Linked DNA regions of Homo sapiens. The protein of the gene in region 3 purifies or fractionates together with the protein of the main gene of each other region. This does not show direct contact. Each region holds a gene or a part of one and is shown on either strand. Other genes may lie near its edges. The genes, in order: MELK, GNL3L, PROZ and SIK2.

What was found.
Region 1: the proteins of PROZ (region 3) and MELK purify together in Homo sapiens (affinity purification with mass spectrometry; 2 studies listed by BioGRID and IntAct, with this or other methods). This does not show direct contact.
Region 2: the proteins of PROZ (region 3) and GNL3L purify together in Homo sapiens (affinity purification with mass spectrometry; 2 studies listed by BioGRID and IntAct, with this or other methods). This does not show direct contact.
Region 4: the proteins of PROZ (region 3) and SIK2 purify together in Homo sapiens (affinity purification with mass spectrometry; 2 studies listed by BioGRID and IntAct, with this or other methods). This does not show direct contact.

What each region holds. Positions count from the first base shown.
Region 1 is NC_000009.12:36,659,874-36,666,897, reverse strand, and holds part of MELK (maternal embryonic leucine zipper kinase), read right to left. Parts: intron 1,549-7,024; coding exon 1,317-1,548; intron 1-1,316. UniProt on the Homo sapiens protein: Serine/threonine-protein kinase involved in various processes such as cell cycle regulation, self-renewal of stem cells, apoptosis and splicing regulation. Has a broad substrate specificity; phosphorylates BCL2L14, CDC25B, MAP3K5/ASK1 and ZNF622.
Region 2 is NC_000023.11:54,533,212-54,540,235, forward strand, and holds part of GNL3L (guanine nucleotide-binding protein-like 3-like protein), read left to right. Parts: intron 1-5,828; coding exon 5,829-5,890; intron 5,891-6,923; coding exon 6,924-7,024.
Region 3 is NC_000013.11:113,154,075-113,161,665, reverse strand, and holds the start of PROZ (vitamin K-dependent protein Z isoform 2 precursor), read right to left. Parts: upstream 3,019-7,591; 5' UTR 3,006-3,018; coding exon 2,936-3,005; intron 2,468-2,935; coding exon of another isoform or gene 2,402-2,467; intron 1,653-2,401; coding exon 1,489-1,652; intron 719-1,488; coding exon 694-718; intron 1-693. UniProt on the Homo sapiens protein: Appears to assist hemostasis by binding thrombin and promoting its association with phospholipid vesicles. Inhibits activity of the coagulation protease factor Xa in the presence of SERPINA10, calcium and phospholipids.
Region 4 is NC_000011.10:111,724,438-111,731,368, reverse strand, and holds the end of SIK2 (serine/threonine-protein kinase SIK2), read right to left. Parts: 3' UTR 4,405-6,931; coding exon of another isoform or gene 4,312-4,404; 3' UTR 3,317-4,311; coding exon of another isoform or gene 3,159-3,316; 3' UTR 514-3,158; downstream 1-513. Other genes in the region: PPP2R1B (serine/threonine-protein phosphatase 2A 65 kDa regulatory subunit A beta isoform), read left to right, coding at 3,159-3,316. UniProt on the Homo sapiens protein: Serine/threonine-protein kinase that plays a role in many biological processes such as fatty acid oxidation, autophagy, immune response or glucose metabolism.

The DNA.
Region 1 (7,024 bases), on a different chromosome or scaffold from region 3:
CACACACACACACACACACACACACACACACACACACACACACAAACACAGACATCATCAGGACACCAAACTGGCCTCACATTTTGGCGGAAAGTGTTATTTGAGTTGATGAAATGGAAAATGACGTTAACATAAAAATGGGACTTCTAGCAAATATTCTGGCAAAGTCTTCCGTAATATCTTTATAGACAAGAAGTTAACCCCTCAAACTGGCTATGAGCTCCATTAGTACACTAGAAGCACAATGGCAGGATGTGGTTTCCCAGCAGTTCACATGGCAATGCTCCAGAGTTTAGGTTTGTTAGAATCTTGAAACTTGAGAAGGTCACAATTGGTGGGGGGAAAAAGGCTAATAAAGTTTAGGTAACATTTTTTAAAGTGACATAAACAGGATCACTGTAAATAAAATTCCTTTGGGCTCTAATTTATTAATTCATTACATAAATATGGCCCCTATTATGTACTAGGCATCAGGTCTAGTACTGTGTACTATGTACCAGACAGGTATGGCCCCTACTACAGACCATGCCATGCTGCAATAAACAAGGCAGAGAGTCTCTACTGTCATGACACTTACCACTCTACCCTAGTGAGACCTAGTCTAGAAAACTCAGTTTAGTTCTAGGCACTGTATTCTAAGAGGCAGTCTGATCAAATAGAATGTGTCCAGATGAGGCCAGCAACCAAAACAGTGAAGTATCATAAAGGAAATGGTTTAAATAACTGCTCATGACTAAATTGAAGAGGAAACCAAGGGAAATGAGGAAGTTGTGATAACTGGACAAAGACAGATATCTGGAAGGGCATCATGGATTCACCCTGCCTGCTGAGGACAGGCAGTAATACCATAGGGCAGAACAGGACCAGACACCACAACTGGAGATCCAGATAAGTAAAGGCTCAGCGGAGGCGTCAGCTTGAGTCATAAGTCGGGGTAAATGGGCATGAAAGGTCTAAACCTGGGTATATGACCTTGGGCAAATCACTTCACTCCTTCTGAGTCTCAGGTTTCTTAGCTGTGAAAAAGGGAGTTGGATTAAATGAGCTCTAACTTGCCTTTCAGCTTTGATATCCTAGGATGCTATGATTCAATTTTATAAACGTGAAAAAGAGGAAAAACTTGGTATCATTTGAGAATAAATTGAAATTGACAAATATGCTTTCATTTTAACTAATGCAAATGACATGATAAAAAACAGCTTCACTTCTCCTAGAAATTCCTGAAAGCAATGCTAGTCATTTCTGACCTGCTATATGTTTACTTAACATGGTAAGAAAAATGAAACTTCTTACTGCTTAATTCACTTAGCAAATACCTTTTGAGGGTGTAGTGTAACGATTTGGCGTAGTGAGTATTTCTCTCTTATGCTGGTTCTTATTAACTGGAGTCTTTGGCTCAGGAAACATAAAGTACTCTTCATTCTTTACAGCAGACTTAGGAGTATATACATTTTCTTTGTTCTTTAATTTATTTGCAGGTGTTCTGCATAAGGCTGGAGTTAATGATTTAGATTCCACCCCATTTGATTCTGTCCAGTACTTGGTAAACTGGAAAAAAAAAGTTACTAGATAAAGCACACTGAAGAAGAAAAGTCAATTTCTTTACAACATTCCTTGATCATTTGCAAACTACCTTGTACTATTTTTATTAAAATGAATTATCAAAAGGATATTATTGACATTAGGAAATTTGAAAATATATAGTTTTCTTTAATACATGTAGATCACTTTAGTCTGTTCTATTGACAGTAATTTTCAACATGATACAGGCTGAGTGTATACACATACTCAGATCCTAGGCAATATTGTGAATGGCCACAAATCAATCACTAAGAAATGCTTTCCATACCTAGATAGTCACGGCTTGCCTCTGACATGTACCAAAAAAAAAGTTTAGTCAGCAATTAGGGCAGAAAAAACATGTTAAACTACTCTAACAGAAATATTGGATAAAAAATACTTTTTAATCCTTTTAAATTTATGGTTGAGCTTGCAAGAGAGTAAGTAAAATCCTGAGAGGCCAAACTAAAAACATGAGAATGAATCCAAAGGAGTAACCAAGGCTGAAACTCTCTGCTGCCCTAAGGGCAGCTATCTTCTGCCTCTGATAACCTATAGCATGTGTTTCTACAGCCACAGAAGCCTTGGGCCTCTGCAAGGTGGTGAGTTAGAACCAAAGCTCCCATGTAAAGCCAGGAAGGGCTATAGCTAAAATTAAAGGCTGAGTTAAATATAAATCTGCTCTTCAAAGGGAATAGGCAAGAAAAAGGGTGTCTTGGTCTTGGTTCTGAGGGAGGAGAAAAATGAAGTTTCTTTTAATAATTTGTAAGTAAACACAGGCCAGTCTTCAGATAAATAAAGGTCCAAATTAATACAACCTGCATGGTCCCAGAAACCTCAAGCCTAAATTTAACTTAAAGTAGTCCTATGCTAAGTTGTGCCCCAGGAACCTGGTAGAAGCACGCACAACTCCTACCTGAAAGAAAAGCTTCACTCCAACCCAACTCAAGCCCTTAACCCAAGCCTCAGATAATTCCCATAGAGTTCAAAGAAAAATAAACCTACATAAAAAATTCCAAAAGACACAAGCACTATGAGCATAAAGATTTCAGATATTAAAATTATCAAATACAGAACATAAATAAGTATGTTTGCATGTTTAAAATAGTGAAACAAAAACATGAGTAAAGAACAAAAGACTACCAAAACTGTTCAAATAGATTTGAAAAAGAATAAAAACTTCTAGAAATAAAAACATGATAAAAATGAAAAGTGCAATGCACATGTCAAATAACAGAATAAAAGAAATAGAGATATTTTAATAGAAATATAAATCCGAAATAACTCTGAATGTAGCCAAGACAGAAAAAGACATACGATACGTGAAAGATGGTTGAAGGAAACAGAAAATGAAATAAAATGTCTAACATAAGGCTATTCTAAGTTCCAGATATACATAGTATGGACAATGCAAAAGCAGCAATTCCCTCTACTTCTTTTCCCAAAGGAAAAGAAATCAATACATCAAAAACATACCTGCACTTGTATATTTATCTCAGTACTTATTCACAATAGCAAAGATACAAAATCAACCCAAGTGTCCATCAACAGATGACTGCATAAAGGAAATGTGAGATAGATAGACAGACAGACACACAGATAGAATACTATTCAACCATAAAAAAGAATGAAATCCTATCTTTTGCAACAAGGTGGATGGAAGTGGAGGTTACCTTAAGTGAAACAAGCCAGACACAGAATGACAAATATTGCATGTTCTCACTCATAAGTGGGTGCTAAAAAAGGGTGTACACGTGGATGTAGAGAGTGGAATGATAGAAAATGTAGACTTGGAAGGGTGAGGAGATGGAAGGGGGTTGGTGATGAGAAATTACTTAAGGGGTGCGATGTACATTATTCAGCTGACACCTTAAAACCTCTCACTTGACCACTATGCATCTAAGAAAATTGTACTTGTACTCTATAAATTTATATAAATATTGTTTTAAAGAAAAGCAGGCTGGGTGCGCTGGCTCACACCTGTAATCCCAGCACTTTGGGAGGCCAAGTCATGTGATCACCTGAGGTCAGGAGTACAAGACCAGCCTGGCCAACATGGTGAAACTCTGTCTCTACTAATAATACAAAAATTAGCTGGGCATGGGGACAGGCACCTGTAATCCCAGCTACTCGGGAGGCTGAGGTAGGAAAATCGCTTGAACCTGGGAAGCAGAGGTTGCAGTAAGCTGAGATCGTGCCATTGCACTCCAGCCTGGGCAAGAAGAGAGAAACTCTGTCTCAAAAAGAAAAAAAAAAAGAAACAAGGAAAAGGAGAAAAAGAAAAAGCAGTATATTATTCAAGAAATTTTCAAAAATTGATTAAAAATACAAATCCCCATACATAGAAAGCATGATGAATCATGAACTGGATACATAAAAGAAATCCACATCTCTATTTACCAGATTATACAACTCCAGAGGACACTATCCACAGAGACACCACACAGATGGTGTGTTCCCTGGAGGTGTGCAACGCAGTAGCCCTAACAGTGAAACTGCAGAACACCAAAAGCAAAGAGAAGGTCCTAAAAGGAGCCAGAGAGAAAAGACAGACTAAAAAGGCACTAGACTGAGGTTGGTTTTTCAATAGCAACAATAGAAGCAAGAAGAAAGTGGAATAATATCTTCAATAACATCCTGTGAATCCATAAATATTTCAAAATAAAAAGTTAAAAACATTCAAGAGCTAATACACTGGACACATCAATAGCATGGAATCCAGGAGGGGTAATCAGAGATTAAGTGTTCTAAGGCCTTCATATTGTTTAGAAGGAAATTAAACATACAGATTCACAGCAGGGTGCAGGGGCTCACGCCTGTAATTCTAGCACTTTGGGAGGCCGAGGCAGGTGGATCACCTGAGGTCAGGAGTTCGAGACCAGCCTGGCCAACATGGTGAAACCCTGTCTCTACTAAAAATACAAAAATTAGCCAGACATGGTGGCGGGTGCCTGTAAACCCGGCTACTTGGGAGGCTGAGGCAGGAGAATCACTTGAACCCAGGAGGAAGAGGTTGCAGTGAGCCTGAGATCACGCCATTGCACTCAAGCCTGGGCAACAGAGCAAGATTCCATCTTAAAAAAAAAAAAAAAAAGATACAGATTCACTTTATATTTCGTTAAATTAAATGTTAAAAATTTAGAGTAAATATTAAAAGAATAGAAATCAAATAGAAACCAATAAAATGTGGGGGGAAATTAACATAAAAAATCAAGAAATAAGGGGGAAATACAGAAAAAGACACATAGGAAACATAAAAAAAGAAAGATATATAATAACTAAATCCATAATAAAAATAAGTTGGGTAAGCGCTCAATTCAAAAGACAAGATTTTCAGTTTGCATACCAAATCTAGCTATGTTTTTTTCTTTGTTTGTTTTGTTTTTTTTTTTTTTTTTTTTGAGACGGAGTCTCGCTCTGTCACCTAGGCTGGAGTGCAGTGGTGCAATCTCGGCTCACTGCAAGCTCCGCCTCCCGGGTTCATGCCATTCTCCTGCCTCAGCCTCCCAAGTAACTGGGACTAGAGGTGCCCGCCACCATGCCCAGCTAATTTTTTGTATTTTTTAGTAGAGATGGAGTTTCATTGTGTTAGCCAGGATGGTCTCAATCTCCTGACCTCATGATCCACCCACCTTGGCCTCCCAAAGTGCTGGGATTACAGGCGTGAGCCACCGCGCCCGGCCTAGCTATGTTATTTTTAAAGAGACATACCTAAATATAAGGTATGAAAGGTTTCATTGTTTTATTTGTTTCATTGTTTTATTTATTAAGGAAATCTTACTTTCTTTAATTTTATAATAGTTCTTTTATCAGGTTGACCAGTTTCCTCCCATCTTCTTATTCTTTAGGAATGATTTAGTTATTCTTGCCCCTTTGTATTTCCACATACATTTTAGAATCATTTTGACTTATTTTACATCCACTGAAAAGTTGAGATTACATTAAATTTAAAATTCATTTTGGGAAAAACTGAAATCTATACCTTCAAATCTCCCTATCCATAAACAAAGTATACCTCTTTTGTTTCAGAACTCTGTGTATTAGCCAAAGATCGCAGCATTTATTCATAGAAAACAGCTAAGTAGAAACAGTGAGTTTGAGGTGTTTGAATTTGCCCTACCTATCCCCATTCTTCTCTCTCCAGCTCTATGATAGTCTTAGAAACCCACAGCCCACAATCACGATGAAGACCAGCAACCTAGGAGCCGCTGGAGGGGGCAGAACAGGTTGGAGCTCCTTCAAAGCTTCATGCTCAGAAAACTGTCATTATTTAGCCTGGCCAGTAGTTCCCTAGAAGACCCTACTATGAAAGCTGTCTTTTTTTATTCTTTGTTTGTTTTTTATTTGAGACGGAGTTTTGCTCTTGTTGCCCAGGCTGGAGTGTAATGGCGTGAACTCAGCTCACTGCAAACTCCACCTCCCGGGTTCAAGCAATTCTCCTGCCTCAGCCTTCCGAGTAGCTGGGATTACAGGCATGTGCCACCACAGGCAGCTAATTTTGTATTTTTAGTAGAGACGGGGTTTCTCCATGTTGGTCAGGTAGGTCTTGAACTCCCGACCTCAGGTGATCCACCCGCCTCAGCCCCCCAAAGTGCTGGGATTACAGGCGTGAGCCACTGCACCCAGCCTGAAAGCTGTCTTTATTTGACCTTACTCAGAGCCTGCCCAGTATGAACAGCCTTTTCCCCAGCAGCATCTGTTAAAAAGATTTAGAGGTGCCAGGCGCAGTGGCTCACGCCTGTAATCCCAGCACTTTGGGAGGCCAACGCGGGTGGATCTCTTGAGTCCAGGAGTTTGAGACCAGCCTGGGCAAAATATTGAGACCCTGTCTCTACAAAATAATTTTGTAAAAATTAGCTGGGCATGGTGGTGCATGCCTATAGTCCCCGATACTCGGGAGGCTGAGGCAAGAAAATTGCTTAAGCCCAGGAGGTCGAGGCTGCAGTGAGCCATGATCACACCACTGGACTCCAGCCTGGTTGACGGAATGAGATCCTATCTCAAAAACAAAAAAAAATTTACAGGCAATTGTTGCACATTGTGGCTGCCGAAGCAGTAAGTAATAGCTGGTGACCACAATAAACTAACAAAAATGCTGAAAAAAAAGTTAGAGAATAAGATGTCCACAGTGAATTGGAAAAGCTCCAAAATATACCAGGGTATCTACAAGCCCAATGTACATGTATAGGATGTGCTCATACCCAGGGCTGTGCATTTGCTCAGGAAAGACTTTAGAAGGGGCTGGGCATGGTGGCTCACGCCTGTAATCCCAGCACTTTGGGAGGCTGAGGCAGGTGGATCACTTGAGGTCAGCAGTTCGAGACCAGCCTGACCAACATGGTGAAACCTCGTCTCTACTAAAAATACAAAATTAGCCAGGTGTGGTGGCGCATGCCTGTAATCCCAGCTCCATGGGAGGCTGAGGCAGGAGAATTGCTTGAACCCAGGAGGCGAAAATCGCAGT
Region 2 (7,024 bases), on a different chromosome or scaffold from region 3:
CCATAAGTTGTACTAGTGATTAAGAGCGTGCCTGTAATGCCAGCTGCTTGGGAGGCTGAGGCAGGAGAATCGCTTGAGCCTGGGAAGCAGAGGTTGTGGTGAGCCAAGATCATGCCACTGCACTCCAGTCTGGGCGACAGAGTGAGACGCTGTCTCAAAAAAAAAAAAAAGGAATAAAACAAAACAAAAAAAGAAAAGAAAATGATAACATTTGGATAGCACACTGGCACTGGGCAGGCTGGATGAGGATTGTGCTCTGTTTTCTGTGTGAATGCTGGCCCTGCCAGTGGACAGCTTGGTGGGAAAAAAATACATTTTTTATATAATCATAAAAATGTCATCAAGAATCATACTGTTAATACCAAAAGCAAATAATCATACTTTTATTTTATTTTTTATGTTTTTTTGAGATGGACTCTTGCTTTGTTACCAGTAGAGACGGGGTTTTGCCATGTTGGCCAGTCTGGTCTTGAACTCCTGACCTCAAGTGATCCGCCTGCCTTGGCCTCCCAAAGTGCTGGAATTGCAGGCGTGAACCACCATGCCCGACCAAATAATCATATTTATAAGTAACACAAGAAAGGTGGTAATTATACTTTATTTAGGAACATCTAATACTAGATGATAGAAATATTGATAGTGATGGAAAAGACAAAAATTACCTCGTTAAATAAAGTAGGATATATGCATACTTAAGAATTCTGGCTGTTTAAAAGATAAAGTAGTATCATATAGAAAGATTATATGGAAAAACTGTATTGTGTGGAAAGACTATTAGATGGAAAGATCTTCAGATTTGCTAACTGAAAGCAGGCATTTGCCACTATGCCCCACTAATTTTTTTTTTCAATAGAGATGAGGGTCTTTCTATGTTGTCCAGGCTGGGCTTGAACTGCTGAGCTCAAACAATCCTCCCATCTTGGCTTCCCAAAGTGCTGGGATTACAGGCGTGAGCTACCACACCTGGTTTTTTTTTTTTTTCTTTTTAACAAGAGGGAAAAATAGTCTCAGCTTGGCACTGGTGAGTCTGGAGGGCTACGTTCTCTACCTACTGACCCCCGGATAAACGTGTGGCAGTGAAAACAACAACCACCTTTTGAGAGGCCTGCAAGTGAAGCATTGTCCTTGGGAGAGCCAAGTATCAAGGCAGGAGCTTGGACAATTGATCCCAGGGAGAGGTTGTTAGGGGAGTGCTGATCACCCAGGTGGGAGTTTCAGAGAATGTTGTGGGAAATTTGATGCTACGGCAGAGGAAGGATGAGGGGAATGAAGTCAGTGGGTGTACAGGGACATCTGTGGGTGACAGTATGGGAGATGAGGGATTAGCGAATACAGAGATCTGCTTTTGAGTACTGATGAATTGGTGATTTTAGGCCTAGATGATATTGGTGGATGCATTGAGGCTCAGAGAGGTTTTAAAAAATTCTTCAAGGTCATATAGCTAGGTAGTTGTTGAGCCAGAGTAAGAATGTCTGCTGGTTATAAAATGGTAGCTGTTTTCTCTCTGGAGTTGTTGAAAAACCTATGAGCAGAGGCTCCTGAGTGCTGGGAGGGATGACTGACTGCACCCCCTTCTCCTTTTTCCCTCCCCCCTTCTCTTCTCCCCTCTGAAGCACATTCTTTTTCTCTCCAAGTGATGTGTTTTCTTTCACTGTGTGCTTGTATCCATTGCAGGCACTCAGTTTCCAGGGAAGTTAGGCAGATGGAAATTGTTGAGTGAAATGTCCAGACCTGGTTCATTCCAAACCTCACATTTTTTTTGTTGTTGTTGTTGCAACATGAGTACTTTAGAAGAAAGGAGACTGGTGGTCTGTTTCGTGTTTATTTAAACTGTGTTTATTTAAATTCGACCCATTCACATTTGTTATGAGACGTTTATGTCTGGTCAGATTTCTACCGTCTTATTTTTTATTTATTTATTTTTTGAGATGCAGTCTCGCCCTGTCACCCGGGCTGGAGTGCAATGGCGCGATCTCAGCTCACTGCAACCTCCGCCTCCTGGGTTCAAGCGATTCTCTTGCCTCAGCCTCCCGAGTAGTTGGGATTACAGGTGCCTGCCACCATGCCCAGCTAATTTTTGTATTTTTAGTGGAGACAGGGTTTCACCATGTTGGCCAGGCTGGTCTCGAACTCCTGACCTAGTGATCCGCCCACCTCAGCCTCCCAAAGTGCTGGGATTACAGGTGTGAGCCACCGTGCACGGCTCTCTACCATCTTATTTTATATTTATTATTTATTTTGTTTCCTCTTATTCCCTTATTTATGTTTTGCTAACTTGATGAAGTTTTTAAACAATCCTCCATCGGTAATTAAGTTATGTTGGTAATTGTATTCATATTTATATCAAACATAATTAATTCTGTATTTATCACTTTACCAAAGTTAAATAATGACTATTTTGTAACCTACCCTTTCAAAATGAAACCTTTAGCATGCTTTCATGCTTTTGCTTTTCCAACCCCCATTACTTGATTCCTGGATTTTATTGAAATAATTTGGTATTTCAGTTCTGAGCTATTTCCTTATGATATGCTTCTTCGATTTTAAGAATCCTTTTTTTGTTGTTTTTTTGAGACAGGGTCTCACTCTGTCGGCCAGGCTAGAGTGCAGGTGTGATCATGGCTCACCACAACCTCCGCCTCCTGGGCTCAAGTGATCTTCCTGCCTCAGCCTCCTGAGTAGCTGGGACAACAAACATGTGCCATCACACCTGGCTAATTTTTTTTTTTTTTTGAGACAAGAGTCTTGCTGTGTTGCCCAGGCTGGAGTGCAGTGGTGCGATCTTGGCTCACTGCAACCTCCACCTCCTGGGTTCAAGCAATTTTCCTGCCTCAGCCTCTCGAGTAGCTGGGATTACAGGTGCGTGCCAACACGCCCGGCTAATTTTTGTATTTTTAGTAGAGACGGGGTTTCACCATGTTGGGCAGGCTGGTCTCAAACTCCTGACCTCAAGTCAGGCATCCGGCTAATTTTTGTATTTTTAGTAGAGACGGGGTTTCACCATGTTGGGCAGGCTGGTCTCAAACTCCTAATTTTTGTATTTTTAGTAGAGATGGGGTTTCACCATGTTGGCCAGGCTGGTCTTGAACTTCTGACCTCAAGTGATCCACCCGCCTTGGCCTCCCAAAGTGCAGGGATTATAGCTGTGAGCCATCGCTCCTGGCCTCAGTGATAAGTTTTAGTAGATTTCCGTAGATTTCCTGCCCACCACTGTTTGTTTCCTTTAGCTTGGGATCTTTATTCTGATTTAATTTTTATTTTGCCAGTAGTTTTATCCAAAAGGAAACACAGGGCCAGGCGTGGTGGCTCATGCCTGTAATCCCAGCACTTTGGGAGGCCAAGGCGAGCCAATGACTTGAGGCCAGGAGTTTGAGACCAGCCTGGCCAACATGGCGAAACCCCGTCTCTACTAAAAATAAAAAAATTAGCCAGGCACAGTGGTGCACGCCTGTAATCCCAGCTACTCCAGAGGCTGAGGCAGGAGATTTCCTTGAACCTGGGAGGTGGAGGTTGTAGTGAGCTCAGGTGGCACCACTGCACTCCAGCCTGGGCAACAGAGCGAGACTTTGTCTCAAAAAAAAAAAAAAACAGAGAGAGAGAGGGAGGGAGGGAGGGAGAGACGAAAGAAAGGAAGGAAGGAAAGGAAAGAAAGGAAAGAAAGAAAGGCAAGTGGTAATCTTTGCTCACCTGAAAATGTCTTTTTCTTACTTTCACAAAGTAAGAGTGATCTGTTGGTTAGAATTTTATCTCTTTATCTTTAGAGTTCAGAAATTTCATCAGGATATGTCCAGGGTATGTCTTTTTGGTTGTTAATCTTTTTTTTTTTTTTTTTTGAGACAGGGTCTCTGTTGTCCAGGCTGGAGTGCAATGGTGCCATCATAGCTCATTATAACTTTGAATTCCTGGGATCAACCAGTCCTCCCGCCTCAGCTTCCTGAGAGCTAGGACTACAGGTGCATGCCGCCACACCTGGTTAATTAAACTTTTTTTTTTATATAGACAAGGTCTCACTATGTTGCCTGGATTAGTCGCAAACTCCTAGTGTCAAGCGATCCTCCCACCTCAGCCTCCCAAAATGCTGGGATGACAGGGTGAGCCATGGCACCCGGCCTTGGTTGTTAATCTTGCTGCTGCCTGTGTCTTTCCAGTCTGAAACCTCAAGCCTATGTTCAACTTAAGGAACTTTCGTCTGTTATTCAGAAAATTATTGCTTCTCCATTTGTACCCTTTTCTCTTTCAGGAACTCCTGTTTAGATTTTAGCTGTCTTGGCTCTATTGTCCATTTTTTCTTTTATATTTTTGCTCATCATTTCAATTTCTTTGAATTTTTGCTCTAAGTAAGCCCCTCCTTTGGTCTTCTAGCTTATTAATTTGGTTGTTAGTGATGTCTTTTTTGTTTTTCACTATTTCTATTGAATTTTTTTAAGAGACAGAGTCTCACTATGTTGCCTAGGCTGTTCTCGAACTCCTAGGGTCAAGTGATCCTCTTGCCTCAGCCTCCCAGCTAGCAACAGGCAGGTGCTACTGTGCCCAGCTTAAGTTTTGACTGTTAAAGCAGTCTGTGTTTGTGTATTTTTTTAAGAGATGGGGTCTTGCTTTGTTGCCCAGGCTGGATTAGAACTCCTGGGCTCAAGGGATCCTCCTACCTTAACCTCTCATGTAGCTGGGGCTACAAGCATGCACCACGGCACCCAGCTTTTGAATTTTTATTCAGTGTCAAGTTTTGGAAAATCTTTTTTTCTCACACAGTTCCTTTGAAGTATCTTCTTGATTCTCCTTAAGAATTTGCAGTAGCTCGAGACTAGCCTGGCTAAATGGCAAAACCCCATCTCTACTAAAAATACAAAAATTTGTATTTTTGTATACGAATACGGGAGGCTGAGGCAGGAGAATCGCTTGAACCCGGGAGGCAGAAGTTGCAGTGAGCCCAGATCACACCACTGCACTCCATCCTGGGCAATAGAGCAAGAGTCGGTCTCAAAATAAAAAGAATTTGCAGTAGAACTTAAGTTCTGTTTCGTACCTTAACTCTGCAGTGGGAGCCAACTGATGTGATTGTGGAGCCTGTTCTCTGTGTGGTATTCTCGAGCTGCTCATATAATATATTTGTTTGTATATATCCTGAGCTTCCAGAAACTCCTGTCTCTCTAGGAATTCCTTGAGCCCCTATGAAGGTGGTAAGAATTAAAGGGAGCCATTCTTCCCAATAGGCCAACTGTGAACGGGTTGAGAGATGGGACTTCTTATTGAAGAAGGGGAGAGGCCTCATAAGTTCTTGGGCTTTGCTAAGTCATGATTGGAGAAGTGGTAGATCTCTTCTTTTTGTATCTGAGGGAGGCGGCAGCATTTTGGCTGAGTAGGTCAAGTCCCTTTGGAGGCAATGGCCTGAGCAGGGTCAGCAGGAAGGATGGTTCTTTCCCCACATACTGAGGGCATCTGCCCAGGTTTAGTGGGCTGGGACTCCTTAGATTACCTTCTCATTCTGCCAGCTCCCTCATCTCAGCCTGGCACTTAAATTGTTGAGTTTCCCCCAGTAGGAAGTTCTGGGGGAAAGAGGAGTCACAAGCACATATTCAGGTTTCTCTCTGTACAGAATTCCTCTCAGAATTATTTGAGTTTGCAGTGAAATAATGTGCAAATATTATATCCAGTACTTCCTCTGATACTATTGCTGCCATCCGCATCTCTTGTCTTGTGCTGGATCTAGACAGACATGGTATCTGAGGCTTCCTAGCTAGGTTCCCAGTGTGGCCTGGCCTTGATTCAGATGTCAACAAATATCGTGTAGATGGATGACGGCTCTTTTCTTTCTTTTTTTTCTTTTGTAGAAAATAAAAAGCCAGGTGAAGGTTCCAAGGGCCACAAGAAGATAAGTTGGCCCTACCCTCAGGTAAGGTATGCCTGTTGTTGAGGGTAAGGTCAAGAACAGGTTGCTTGTCCTGGGAGAGGCCCACTAAACCCAGTAAATATTGGGTGACTCTGGACAGAGTGCCACATTGGAGTCAGTGGATCTGGCTTTCCCTCCTTCTCTGGGTGGCCGCAGCAGAGAATCAGCAGCATTTTTCCCAAGTCATATGCAGCTTCGTGCTTGATTTACCTTGGTAGGGATTATCATTATCCCCATGTTTTAGTTGAGGAAACTGTCAGTGAGAAAGTTCCTAGGTTCAAGGTAACGCAACTGGGATTTGAGACTGTCTGATTCTCAAGTCCCTGTTTCTTATGGAGAAGAGGGAGGCCAAAACATCATCTTTGGTTCCTGGATCTCCTGGTCCTGCTGGGAAAGGTGTGGGTAAGTAAGGCTTGGGAAAGAGCAATGAGAAGAAGGTATAGGCCAGAGAAGGCTTGGGTTCTCACAATTTAGCATGGGTGAAGCTCTCAAACTTTAACCAGTCCTCTAGAATCACCTGGAGGATGGGGGAAAACATCGATTGCTGGGCCCCACCTCAGAGTTTCTGATTCAGTAGGTCTGGCATGGCATCCCATGATTTGTATTTCTAGCAAGTTCCCAGGTGCTGCTGCTACTGCTGGTCTGAGGACCACTCTTTTGAGAGTCACTTATCTAGAAAGGTTTTCCCTGGGCCTTGGGAAACCTTCCCAGCTGCCCTTCCCCTCTGAGAGGTCTCCTGTCAGTCCCTGCCTAGCTATAGGAGAGAGGACCTCTACCCAGCCAGATGGGCAGATCTTTGGGGATGGAGCCCTTTTTGCTTCTCTCCTTTCTTTGTCCCCACAACTACACTTATCTGAGAAGCTTTAACTCCTGCTGCTCACCTTGGGAGTGAGGGGATGAGAGGATGAGAGGATTGAGAGATAGAAGGGGCATTTATGAGGGGATGTTGTCTTCCTTCTAGGGCTTCTTGCTGCCTTTTTGAGGTGATTTCCATGGGTTCATTACCTCTGTTTTTTTTCTCTTATGTGGTGGCCAGCCTGCAAAGCAAAATGGGAAGAAAGCAACCTCCAAAGTGCCCTCTGCACCTCATTTTGTTCACCCCAATGATCATGCCAATCGAGAGGCTGAATTAAAGAA
Region 3 (7,591 bases):
GCCTGGCTGCCAGTGCCTCCCACTCTGCTGGGTGCCCTTTCTTCGTCCGCACGCGGTCCCCTCTGTCCCGCCCCATCAGCCCTTCTCCGGCCTTCCCTGCCTCTCCCGCTTCCTTCTGTGCCCAGTTGTCCCCGTGCTTGTCTGGTGGTGGCTGCAGCTCTTTGCTTACTCATTCCCAGGTGGGTCCTTACCCTGGCCTCCCCCAGCCCCGTGGGTCTCCATCTGTGTTACTTCTGTCCCATGCTCTTCTGCAGTTGCCCACCTAGAGCTCCTCCCTTGGGAGGAGTCTCCTAACCAAAGTCTCCATCGGGGCCATGACTTTCCAAAATTTGAGACGAGTTCTGACCCTGCTGCAGCATGAGGCTTCCCAGGAGCCCAGGAGCCAGGCGGCTGGAGGAGCTGCTCTGGGGGGGCCCTCCTGGCCTGTGGCCCATGTCCCAGAGTGCCAAGAAACTACCCAGACACTGGGCAAGACAAACCAGGCACTGCCTGTGGCCCTGGTGGCAGAGCCCGGGGGCTTCCTGACCTGGTCCTTGGGGAGAGTCGGAGCTGCCCTTCCCTGGAGAGACACCGTGGGTCCTGGAGCCAGAGGCTTGGCATCCGCTGAGCTGGGGTCGTGAAGCGTCCTAAGCCCACCCACGCACCTCATCCCGAGGAATTAATACTTCTGAGGAGACGAAGGAAACCACTTACCCTTATATCGTCTCCAGAATTCATCCTTTAGAGTTAAAACATAAAAATGTTACAAATGGGATATTTGTTTTTCTATATTCTTTCCTGTAGATGAACTTGAAGGTAAGAAAATGTTGATTTTATTCACTTAATAGGACAATAGTGGTTGAAACAATGCACAATTTTCCTGTTTTACAGCCTATTTGTTTATGTTAAATGTATAGTAACTAAATGTATCTGTAAGATATATTACTCAACATGTGCTTACCACCACCTATTTGAGGAAGGCCAGAGTCTATGACATGGCACAAACCCACCACCCACAGCCCCTAACGTGGCCCTTCCCTTCTAGGGCCAATCTCCACGCCACCCTCCACAAAAGCACATGATATAGAAGTCACATCACCTTTTCGCTTTTTATAAACCGAGTTGAATTTTAAAGATATATACCTCTGTAGGGAGTGGGGACACTTAGTTTGGGGTAGGAGTATCTAAAATTAGGAGAATTATTCAGACTTGAAGCCTAGAAAGAAAATGTATGCTGGGTGTCTGATCAGTGTGTGGGCCTTGCCTGACCTGAAGAAATGAGTCCAGTGGGCTCTGAGCTGACTTCCAGCCCCACTCACTGCTGTAGGGAAAGGTGGATTAAGTCGATTCTCTAAATTGTTTCCTCATCTGTAAAACTGGGATTGTGTCAACCTCATCGGTAAGTAAATAGGCTAATTAATTAAGCTTAATCTCTGAGAAATGATGCTCCCTGGGCCAGCAGAAGTCTAAATAATGAGGAGGCCTGTGGTTTGTGGTGGGGGTACATACAGTGACTACTTCATTTTCAAACACTTCTCTTGCTTCTTCATAGACACAGATTTCTTCATAACATTCTTTTTCCAAGTTTCCCTCGAAGAGTTCTTCCAGAAGATAGGAGCCCGCACGCTTCCACCTCACCAGAACGTCGTTTGCTTTGGAGGCCGGGAGAAATACTACAGACGAGACAAGAAGGCAGGTGACTGGGAGCACCGAGGGCCCTGCTTTCCAGAGCTGCCTGGCTTCCTCCCCGGCCGGCCGCCAGCCCCAGCCCCGTCCGTCTCCACAGGCTCTCAGCCTGCGAGGGCCTCAGGGCCACCCCGCTACTCCCTCCCCCGAGGTAGGCAAGCACTTCATCCTCTGGGCGAATGGATCAGCCCCAGGATCAGTGCGGATACACTAAGGTTCTGCAGAGAGGCCACGGGCCTCAGTCAGGAAAGTGGAGGAGGGAGGGCTCCAACTGGGTTTTGGGTCTGAGTGCGAAGGAAGGCTGAGCTGGGGTCAAAGGTCCCCGTACTGAGAACTGGGGACCAAGAGCCATCAGCTCCTGTGCTGCCTCTGTGCGCAGCATTTAACATCTTGATAAAACACATAAAGAAGAAACTTATACATTGCAGCAGGCTCTGCGATTTCCAGGAGGAGAAGGCAAATGAGTTGACCCGCGGCAGTGGTCTCTGGAGCCTCTTCCCACCTGAGGGTCCCAAAGCATGTTCTCTCCCTCTCCGGGAGGGTCAAAGCCCAGGCCCTTCCCATCCTCCCTCCTTTTCTCTCGGTGCTGAGGGTTACAGCAGGGGGGGCTCAGCTAAGTCCGGCTACGGTAAGTGCTGGGCAGGGCAGGGCGGGGGGATCACCCTCTCAGGGTGGGAGACCATGGGGCCAGCGGGAGACCATGGGGCCAGCGGGGATGCTGGGTGTTTTGACTTGCAGCTTTCCTGGACGCCTGTGCAGGCAGAGTCAGAATGGAGTCCATGTCGTTCCTTCAGTGAAGTGGCTGGTGGTAGAAGGGTGGCAGGCAGGCAGGGTGGCTGCTCCCTGGCTATGTCTCCTGACTCAAGACTGGGCATTCCTGGCTGGCCTGGCCAAGGCTCTCTCTGCCCACATTGCAGTCTGGGCTCAGCCTGCCCCACCCCCTCCCCTCGTCCAATGCCCAACCCAGGCCTCCCCCCACTCCTCCCCCTTTCCCCCTCCCCTCTCCCCGGCCTTTCCCGGCTGAATCCCCTGCACACAGGCTTCTTTCCATTTGGGCATCTCTTGGGAGGACCCCAAGTGACACTATCATGTCCCAAATACTTGTCACCAAATGATAAAGATCCAAACAGCTTTTTCAGGGGAATTAAGACTAGTCTGGGCACTCAGGGCTCCTCTGGCTCCTGGAAAAAGCCTCATCTACAAATCCACCATGGACCGAGTCAAGAAAGACACAGCACAGGCACAACAGACAGGTAAGCCAGATGCCTACCTGAGGGCTCCACACGATGGAGGGCGAGGACCAGGACCAGGCCCTGGAGCAGTGGGACGCAGCCTGCCATTCCCACCCGGAGCGCTGGGACAGGGCTACAAACACAGCCAAAGTCCAGGCTGGGGGAGGTGCCGGCAGCAGGAGCCTCGGGGCACGACCTGTGCAGCTGTGTGCTTCCCTCCTGACGTTTTCTGTTTGAGGCCAGGCAGAGAAATGAACGGTGAAGGCTCAGAGGACCCTGGGAGATATTTAGGGAGACAGAGAACAGAAGGTAAAGGCAGCAGGTGCAAGGTGGAAGGTGGCACCCATGCCCGTGTGTGGTCAATGGAGGTGAGATAGGCCCTGGGGACACAGCACTGGGCGGGACAGACAAAGTCACATGCAGCTTACGTTCTAGGTGTGTGTGGAATACACAGAAAAGAACGAGGGAAAGAGACAGGAGGGAGTGAGGGAGGGAAAGCAGGAGGATGGAAAGAAGGAAGGGGAGAAAAGGAAGGGAGGGAGGGAGGAGGGAGAAAGCGGGGAAGGGCCAAATAGTGTCTGTCACTACAGCTCAGCACCATTGTAGCAGAGGCAGCATAGACAATCATGAATGAACACTTGGCTGTGTGCCAATAAAGCTTTATTTATAAGAGCTATTAAGGGGCCAGATTTGGCCCCAGGGTTGTCGTTTGCTGCTTTCAGATGTAGGCCCTGTGTATTAGTCCCTTCTTACACTGTTATGAAGAAATAGCCAAGACTGGGTAATTTAAGAAAAGAGGTTTAGTTGACTCCCAGTTCCACATGGCTGGGGAGGCCTCAGGAAACTTATAATTATGGCAGAAGGCACCTCTTCACAGGGTGGCAGCAGAGAGAATGACTGAAGCAGGGGAAATGCCAGATCCTTATAAAACCATCAAATCTCTTGAGACTCACTCACTATCCCAAGAATAGCATGGTGGAAACCACCCCCATGATTCAATTACCTCCCACCGGGTCCCTCCCAGGACACGTGGGGACTATGGGGATTACAATTCAAGATAAGATTTCGGTGGGGACACAGCCAAACCATATCAGCCCTTGAAGCCTGAGGTAAGAACCTGGTGTTTCATTTTCACTGTGTTGGGAAGATATTGGAGGGAACAGGAATTGACATGGAAAGATTTGTGCTCTGAAGGGATCACTGGGCTGCTGTGTGGAGAACAGAACATTCCAGAGAAGTCAAAAGGGAGGCTGCCGGCTAGTCCAGGAGGGGGTGAGGGTGCAGCCATGCAGCAGGAAGCACGTTTGCAGTCTGGATGCTTCAGGAAGGGAAAGCTGATGGGATTCATGATGAATTGTGTCGGGCAGCACGGCTCCAAGGTTTGGGCTGAGCGATTGGGAGGATGGCAGTGCGTGTGCTGAGACGGCCAAGCTCCAGGAGGGCAGAGGGAAGCGAGGTTTGGCAAATTTGAGGTGTCTGTGGGATGTCCAGGTGGAGACAGGAGTGGGCATCCGAGAAGCTGGGACTCACAGTGGAGATTCAGGTGGTAACAGATGAAATGACAGCATTGTCAGCATATAGATATTGTTCGATTGAATGACACTCAAAGGTGGCAAAACTCAATGAAAGGATTCTAAATACAATTTTGTTAAAGTGGGAACAGAAGAAAACTAAGAAGCTGACACCCTTGATTAAGAGGGCATGCCCGCAAATACACTGAAGTTGTGAAGTTTGCTTTAAAAAGCTGGGAAAAGAAAATAAAGTTTATCTTTAGTGAGTGAGTTAAAATAATTTGAAAGCCAGAAGTTGATTGTATAGGATAGCTCTTGGGTGAATTGCACCAGCCTGGCAATCTACGTGGCCTTCACTTAAGAAAAGGTGCCTTTTTTTGTGTGAAAATGTATTCCCACATGGAAATTTACATTAAAAATACTTCTGCTGGATAGTTTAAAAACCATCAATAGCTGCCTAAAAATGGAAAGGCAGACAGGGACATACACATTCGATCAATAAGTGTTAATTAAGCACATCCTATATGCCTGACATGGGTATCTGAGCTACAACCTCTTCCCTCATGGACCATTTTAGTCTGTTGGGGCTGCTGTAACAAAACACCTTAGAGTGGGTAATTTACGATAAACAGAAACGTAGTGCTCACAGTTCTGGAGGATGGGAAGTCCAAGATCAAGGCTCCAGTAGACTCAGTGTCTGGTGACGGCCCATGATTCATAGACGTGTCCTTGGATGGTGGAAGGGAGGAATGTGGGTGCTCCCTGGAGCCTCTTTTGGGAGGGCAGTCATCCATCCATGAAGGCAGAGTGCCTCCCAGAGGCCCCACCTCCTAGTACTATTGCACAGGGGGTTAGGTTTCAACGTGAGTTTTGGGGGATGGTTTGGCTCTGTGTCCCCAACCAAATCTCACCTTGAATTGTAATAATCCCCACAGGTCAAGGGCAGGACCAGGTGGAGGTGATTGAATCATGGAGGTGGTTCTTGTGATAGTGAGTGCATTCTCACAAGAGCTAATGATTTTATAAGGGGCTTCCCCCTGTGATTGACACACATTTTCTCTCTCCTGCCACCCTGTGAAGAGGTGCCTGCTTGCCATGATTATGTTTCCTGAGGCCTCCCCAGCCATGTGGAACTGTGAGTTCATTAAACCGCTTTTCTTTATAAATTACCTAGTCTCAAGTATTTCTTCACAGTGACATGAGAACAGACTAATACAGGAAGGCATCAACATCGAGGCCACAGCTGTGATTGACTGTGTTGTACGTGGACTGACCGTGTTGTATGTGGTGATTTAATTTTCTCATCTGCCTTCTCAAAGATACCACCTTTGGACCAAAAATTCTACAATAATAAATTGTCCAAACATTAAGATTCACCTCGTTCTACTCATCTTCCTCATCTCTCATATGAATAATCGTTCTTCTGTCACCCTCTTCTGTTCTGAAAAACAAACCAACCAACATTGGGACACTTTTTCCATTGACTGGTTTACTTTCCTTCTGTATACCTGAGGAGAATCTTCCTTCCTTTGGGGTCTTTGTCGTGTCCTTCAGATGTTGGGGTGTCCTCTGTGGGGGTCCCCAGCTTAAATCAACTGACCCCACAACTTTGTGTGGAACCTGAAATGAGCAGCCTATGGAGAACCTGGTCATTGAATACTTAGATCTTGCCGCAGTCCCTATTTAAATACCTGTTCAATCAACTCTGGGACCTATGTTTTAGATTTCAACATCTCTGAATTGGCCTGTTCCCTACAGCCAATGTTCTAATGTCAGCCTGGACAAGGCCGAGTTCTTCCTGAAAGGGGTTGTGCTTTATGTTGCCCCCTGGGGGCACTGCCACTTTGCAATCCCTTTAAATACATTTTTTTGTGTGAGTTTTGGGAGCCCATGTGAATAGTGTAAATGTATTGCAAAGCTGGTTCCTGGCTGGCCTGTGGTTTAGATTATCTGAGCTTCCCCCTCTTGCCTCCAGGCTGAGCTGACCCACAGCTAATTTGGGTATATGCTCTTTCTTTCAGGTTCATCAATAATGGTGCGTCTTAGATTCACAGAGTAGAGTGTGGTCTAGTCCACTTTGTGGTGCTGTAACAGGATATCTGAGACTGGGTAATTTATAAAGAACAGAAATTTATTTCTTACAGTTCTGGAGGCTGGGACATCAAAGGTCCAGGGGCCCCCATCTGGCGAGGGCCTTCTTGCTGCGTCATCCCATGGTGGAAGGTGGATGCGCGTGAGAGAGAGAGAGAGAGAGAGAGAGAGAGAGAGAAAGGGGAGAGAGGAAGGGGGCCAAACTCATCCTTTTATTCCAAAATAACGAACCCACTCCTACAATAGTGGTATCAATTCATTCACGTGGGCTCTGACAATGAATGCGTCTTAAAGGTCCCACCTCTCAACACTGTTGCCTTGGGATTAAGTTTCCAACACGTGCACTATAGGGACACATTCAAACCACAGCATGCTGCATCCTCTGATGTCCACATTGTGGATGGAGGTGGCAGCTTATCACCTGGAGCTCCTGAAGAAATTAAAGAGGAGACACATGGTGACGCAGCCCACAGCCTGGCGTTTTTAGCATCTCAGAAGCACTGACAGGGACCCGCAAGCTTATGAGAAACTGTTCAACTCATTGGGCTTCCTCAGAGCTTGGGAGACCATTAATGTGGAAGACACTATCTGGACATGTTTCTCTTTTTTCCACCTGTCTAGATTTTCTTTCAGGATCGGGGAGACTTCTGGAGTAGAAAAGCCACTCCAGAACCCTTCCTCCTCCTCCCCCACACCCCGCCTCATGAGCGGCTGCCCTCCGCGTGGCATGGAGTCCCCGCGTCCACTCAGAACCCTTCCTCCTCCTCCCCCGCGCCCCGCCTCCCCCGCGCCCCGCCTCCCCCGCGCCCCGCCTCCCCCGCGCCCCGCCTCCCCCGCGCCCCGCCTCCCCCGCGCCCCGCCTCCCCCGCGCCCTGCGTCACGTGCCCCTGCCCTCCCCGACGCCCCGCCCCCCACGCCCCTCCTCCCCCACGGCCCGCCCCCCCACGCCCCTCCTCCCCCACGGCCCGCCCCCCCACGCCCCTCCTCCCCCGCGCCCCGCCTCCCCCGCGCCCCGCCTCCCCCACGCCCTGCGTCACGTGCCCCTGCCCTCCCCCACGCCCCGCCCCCCACGCCCCGCCCCCACGCCCCGCC
Region 4 (6,931 bases), on a different chromosome or scaffold from region 3:
AGGCCTTTGGCAGACCCCAGAGAAGATGTGACATCGTGACTAAGTAGCAGTGTCTTTTGCCTGGCAGCTCGCAGCACCTCCCCTCCCATTTCCAGCCCCTGCCCTGTAGCTGCCTGTCCTCGGGGACCCCTGCATCTGCCTCCCCTCCTCCTACCGCGGCATGAGGCCCTTGCCCAGGCTACCTGGGCTGATGCGCTTTGCCCTGGGACTCTGAGAATCAAGGAGCAGTAATTAAGCAGTGCCCAGCAGGGCCCTGTCCTTGTGCAGGCTGCGGTTAGCAGTGCTTCCGTCAGCGATCTGCAGCGGCTAACGTGTACTCGGGCGATTCAGAGCAAGGTATTATTTACCCTGCTGACGTCAATGAGAACATATTATCCACTGTCCTTTTCTGCAGCCTGAAATGAGCACCAGAACTCAGAGAACACAGCCACCTTCCATACTCTAAAAATTCCACCCAAGGCCCGATGAGGCAAAAACCCTATCGCATTAACCTGACATTCACATCACCCGGGCTCTTAGAAAAGAAGTTGTTTTTATTTTAATTCAAGAGGGTTGGAAACATAAAAACAGTACATTTTCCTTGCAGAAAATTACCCCATTTAAATTACTATTTGGTACAGAGATTATTTATTACACTGCATTTTAGGCAATTTTCTAACATTAAGTGACAAGTTATACTTTTGATTTTTTTTTTCACATTGGAGCTATTATGATTTGCACTCATAATACCAAAGCTACTGAACTCACCAATTTTTTTCTTAGTAATTAAAAAAAAGCACACAGAAAATATAACTACAGTTAGATTAACTTTATCAAAAGTAACTCTTTCAGACCAAACATCCAGCAAAACCACCCACCTCCCTTCAGATATAAGCAAATAATCTTGCCCTTTCTACAAAGTGCAGATATCTCTGTATCCCTTTTATTTCTCAAACTGCAGTCCCCGAAGTGAAGCAAACCTTTCTCTCCACTTCTTTCCCCTTCAGAGATTTTGGTGAAGGCAGGTTTCTCTTACCACCCATGGTGGAAAGGTCTCACCACTTGAATTTCCTTGACTGAGCAAATCTTCTGCAGACAGACACCACAGAGCCAGCAGCAGCCCATTATCTGCACTGGGGAATGTGACATTATTCCATCTGGGGTCATATGTTTCCAGGATGTTGTTTTGTACTTCTATTTTTAAAGCTCCCCTCTACCCACCCACTTTGCCTCTGAAAAGACAGAGTATTAAGTCAAAGTCTGTTATTACTTTTTTAATCCTAAAAGTAATAAGCACTTCTAGTTGATGGGGCTTGACTGTAAGGAAATGTTACGCCCCTCGTTGAGACAAAGGCTGAGTTCATGACCGTTCCTGGGGTGGAATCTGCTGGCCTGCAGTGGTGGCCTGATGCCGTGCGATGCGGCCCCTTGGCAATTGAGGAAGGGGGTGTTCTGTAGGAAACTGCTGTATTGTAACTTGGAAAAACTAGACATCTTTGAGGTGAGCCTAAACTTCTGCAGTTAACTGGACGCTGAAAGGCAGGCGGGTCTGCGGGGTTTTTGTCTCCCTCAGCCTGGTTCAGTGCACGGCCACCTGGACAGCTGCACTGTCACCTGAAGGCGGCCTCTTCCCCAAAGCCAGGCGGCTGTTGAGTGGAGAATAAGGTTGTGGGAACAATATCACATTCACCCTGTGCTTGACCAAAATGGGGGCTTTGTTTATACAGCTGTTTGCTTATGAAAAGAGTCAGATGCTACTGAGGAAAGAGAAGGGAAAGAGAGGGCTTCTTCCAGCACTAGAAGCCAGAGAACCAAAACCAGAAGCCAGTCAACCCAAGCGCGTGTCCCAGCTCCTTCTATCACCAGCTGTGATCTCAGAGAAGTCACAAACTTCCCAAAGCTTTGGTTTCTTCAGCTGTGAAAAATAAGGACAGTATCTCCCCAGCTAATTTCATAGAATTGTTGTGAGGGTTAGAAGAGAAAGTGCTTGGTAAAACTAATGTACAAATATAAGCTATTGCTCCCTTGTGGGTGGGCGAGCAGAGTATCTGGGCAGAACCCATCACAGCTCTCCCTGGGTGGGTCTGCGAGCACTGCTGCCGCCTGGTTCTCTATCTGTGCCCCAGTGTGTGCCTGAGTCTGCTGATAGGTTGAAACCTGCCTGGAGAAGATGTGGACACAAGGTGGGGGTGCACGTAGGATGGCTGTCTTCTAGAATCAGCTAGGCTACCTTAATTAGGACAAAAATGGTAAAATAAGAATGTGAGAGGCTACTGGAAGGTGAGAGGCTCCACTGCTTTCGTTCACCTGCCACCAAGGGCCAGACAAGGGCTCTGACATTACAGGTGCTTCAGACCACACTGTAGAACCTGTCAGAAGGGAGATGATAGAAACTTTAAGAAAATCTCTTTGTCCAGTTTAGAAACAGAGGCAGATGATACTGCTCTTGTCTTTTTTTTTTTTTTTGAGGTGGAGTCTTGCTCTGTCGCCCAGGCTGGAGTGCAGTGGCACGATCTTGGCTCACTGCAAGCTCCACCTCCCGGGTTCACGCCATTCTCCTGCCTCAGCCTCCCGAGTAGCTGGAACTACAGGCGCCCACCACCACGCCCGGCTAATTTTTTGTATTTTTAGTAGAGACGGCGTTTCACTGTGTTAGGATGGTCTCAATCTCCTGACCTCGTGATCCGCCTGCCTTGGCCTCCCAAAGTGTTGGGATTACAGGCGTGAGCCACCGCGCCCGGCTGATACTGCTCTTGTCTTTCATACATTGCTCTGAAGATAAGTTCTATAAAAAAATTCCAGGTCGGGTGTGGTGGCTCACACCTGTAATCCCAGTACTTTGGGAGGCCAAGGTGGGTGGGTCACCTGAGGTCAGGAGTTCAAGATCAGCCTGGACAACATGGTGAAACCCCATCTCTACTAAAAATATACAAACTAGCTGGATGCGGTAGCACACACCTGTAGTCCCAGCTACTTGGGAGGCTGAGGCAGGAGAATGGCTTGAACCCAGGAGGTGGAGGTTGCAGTGAGCTGAAATCACGCCACTGCATTCCAGCCTGGGTGACAGAGCGAGACTCTGTCTCAAAAAAAAAAAAAATTAAATAAATTCCAGAAGCAACAAAATGATCAAAGATCCCTGCCTGTACAATGACTCCAACTTACGAGCTTCCCTGTTCTCCAATTTTCACCTTTCATGTTTAGGCACAAAGAGACCGAGTGGCTCGGGTGGCTTCCCAGGAGGCAGTTAGAGGCAGCCCAGTTTAGGAGTTTGAGTGTAGCAGGTCAGCCCTGGCACCGGTGTCAGCCACTGTTCACAGGGACTGAGACTGTGAAATGACACACTGCATATTGTCTCTATAGGAGGTCGAATGGGAAAAAGTTACCTGGAGTATGAATTTTCTTTAAACCAATAGGGAGCTTAAATGTGACTGTTGATACAGGTTTTAAAATGTAATACAAACATATTTACGAACCTGGGGCTTGACTAGAGGCTGGAGGACCCCAAAAAGGAGCGCCACTCACTCACTGTGTCCTTGCATCCTCAACTGCCCGCATGTCTCCAGAGGCTGCTTAGTGCCCACACGCCTGGGACCAACTGTGACTCCAGGCTGCTGCTTGTCACCTTGCCTTAGTTTCTGGCTGATCACCTAATCACTCTGGAGCTGAGAATATCCTTCTCCCCACATCTAACCCGTGGGCAGAATTCTGTGAGCGTTTCCCTGCCTTTAGGACTGATGACACTCGGTGTGTGGGTGGAGGTGGGGGAGTCGTCAGTCTTATGATGAGTCTCTTCTGCTGGAGACTTTGGTCCACGAGAGAGGGTAGGGGGCAGGGGAGAGGCCGATACTCCTACAGGGGGGGTCCCCCCTTGCTCCCCATCAAAATGCAGAGCACCCCATTACTCCAGCACCAGAGTTGGGAAGGGACACAAGAGGCAAGGGCTGGCTTCAGTCTTGGGCTCCTGTCTGTCCCAACCACTGACTCCAGCATACGGTTTAAACACTTGGGAGTTCTTGATATCTGAGGAAGAAAGGGCCACTGACTTTTTCTTTCCTAGGAGGCAAAAGTGGATGGAAGAGAGAAGGGGTTTGCTCAGATGGGCATGAACAGCCCCTGAGCCCCATCCCCACTCCCCTGGTGGGCCCTGATGCTCTCCCACGCAGGGATTCTCAAGGTGGATGGTGTAGAGAACCATCAGCCTCCTTTTCCCACGGTGACAGAAGGCAGTGCAGGCAGAGGTGGCGAGGGGGCAGCTGGGGACGGTCAGTGTCACCGGGAATGTGAAAGTGGGCCCCCTCTTCCTGTCGGGCTAACATGCTGTTTGCCTTACAGGGACCAGTGTATCAGTTGCGTGGAGATACTAGAGACACACTTGCCCAGCTGGGAATTGCAGAGCTAGTGCATTTCTCCCAAAGCACAGACTAATACCCCAGATTTAAAAAAAGAACATAAAAAATAAAGTACCACACATATTGCACTTTTTGCCGAACGAAATTTTTACCTCACGTTCATCTCACCAAAGTCTCTTCAGAGGAGCCTGGTTTACAGGGTGATGAAGCTGATGATGATACAGTAGTGTACACACTGCTAACGTGAATCAGACTGGAAAGCAAGTCAGTACTTCAGAGTAGCCCCGCAGAAAAAGAGCGATACTAAGCCTTCTTAGTGTTTTGTTTGTTAGTAGTGATGAAGAGAAAACTGCTTGGAAGCTTCCATGGGTCACTAGTTAGGGACAGAGCAGCACAGGTGATCAGACAGGGCTGAGCAAACACCTGACTGACCAACAGAACCAGTCTCCTCAGCAGCTTACATTGCAGTCAATACAGAGGGTTATGGAATTTATTGATTTCTGCTTGAAATAAACAAGATAAGCAAATAGGAGCTTACAACACAGGTCCCAGCAGGAGGGGTCACGCTCTGCATCAGGCCGGTGTCCACGCCGCTGCCGTGTGTGACGGATCCTGATAGGCCTGGCTGCTGTAGGGCACCTCTCGATTTCTCTCTGGGTCCTTAACCTTCCAGTAGCCTCTCTGCAGTCCCTCATCGGCTGGCCTAACCGTCCTGCCATAGCTCCCAGGTCTCCTGGGCTAAGCAGCTCATGGCATTGTTGGGGGGCAGGAGTTTATGTCGATCTGTAACTACACCATTCCTGCAGTTCTGAAATGAGTGGCCCCCATTTTCAATCTGCAGGCATTTTAATATCGCAAATATTGTAGCACTTCTGTAGTATATTTTGGGAAAACGTCTTCCTTCAGTCTAAACAAATCAAGCCCCATTTTATAACTGGCTATTTTGTAAAGACTCAAAACAGATTAGAGATCTTAATGAAATGATCTCTTAAATGAAATGATGTTCTTTATTTCACGAAATCATCAATCTTAAGCACGAGCAGGAATAAACAACTCCCAGAAGAAGCTTAATTCATTCTTCCTGGATTTTCACTGTGTGTTATTAAATCACAAAAATGACAGTCCCCACACTGCCCTTTCCCACTGACACCAAGTCCAACCGTGAGCACAGTGCCTCTGCGAAGCATCCTGGCACCCATGGTGAGCGCTGGCGACCAGGCAGTCTCTGGCCAGCAACAGGGACTGCTCAAGTTACCGACGTTGGTAGGAGCTGGGCTCGCATGGCCAGAATGGAACCCCCTAGACTTTCCACACGTCACCTGCCTGAACGCTAACTACAAAGAGGAAAGGCAACTTAAAGGTGTTTTCTAGATGCAGCATCAGTTAGTCCCTCTCTTTGTGCTTTAAGGAAGATGCTTTGTGCTTAACACATTCATCTGCTGATGGGACAAGCCATTCTAAAGGGCAGAAATGATCATCTTTAGAATTAACACTGACTTTGTAACACCTGGATGTTAACTGTCCAAATGGCAAATTATTCATCATTTCTAGGGATACAGTTAGCTAGCTGTAGCATCTAATTTTTACTTACTTTGATGACTGAATTGTAAGTGTTGGTTAAGTTTTATTAGTAATATAATGTTTGGCAGATGATCTGCTTAAATGGTTAACACATCTGTGGTTCTTTCTTTGAATATTGCTGTAATACTTGAACATTTCATTACAAGTCAAAACTTTAACGAAATTAAGAATGCTGATTCCCACATGGTGGAAAACAAACTCTGAAGTGACTTTGGATTTAGCATTGACATAAATGGAAACTGTTGGTTTCTACAGAAAAGAAAGAATTAAAGCATGATCTGGGGGAAAGGCACCGCACTACCACTTCACATGGGACAGAAAAGTTCATTTATCATGTCCTTAAAATCTCTAAGCCCTATATGAAACTGTCCAAATATACAAAGCTCAATAAACTACTAGCAACATATAGTGTAAGGTCAAAGTAGTTATTACATCGGAAAAGAGACAACAGGTACCCTGGAGACCGACTGCCCGCAAGCCAGCAGTGTCCACGAGAAACTGCAGGAAGAGCCTGTCTTCCCTGGCCCAGGGCTGGTGCTCTTGATGCGTTCTTGAGTTTCTTGCCCCCTGCCTCCACGGTGGCGGGTCTCCTGTCAGTTCCACGTGTGACACCTCTGGAGTCCTGAGTATATTCTGACACTCGGCAACCCAGGGCACCTTCTGAAGGGGTGTGTCACCTGCTTCCGAATGGAGATGAAGGCGGTTTCTGGGGTCAGTACCAGCTGTTATTTAGTGGCCCCTGAAACACAGCTCATGCCCCACTGCTTTGTGATGGCCTTGGGGGACAACTTGCATCAGCAGCTAAGAACTTAGGATTCAATGACAAAGCACAGCTTTCCTTTATTTCCTGTGCATCTGATTTCCTGATGTCTTCTTGATTTGCCTTGTAGCAATATGTGGTTGCTCAGCTTCAGTGAAAAATATATTGCCTTTTCCCCCATATATATGCAATAGCACACACCCTTTCTGCTTTCACCAAGGTTGCCCTTGATAATAAACGGATGTAATCCTGCATAACACCT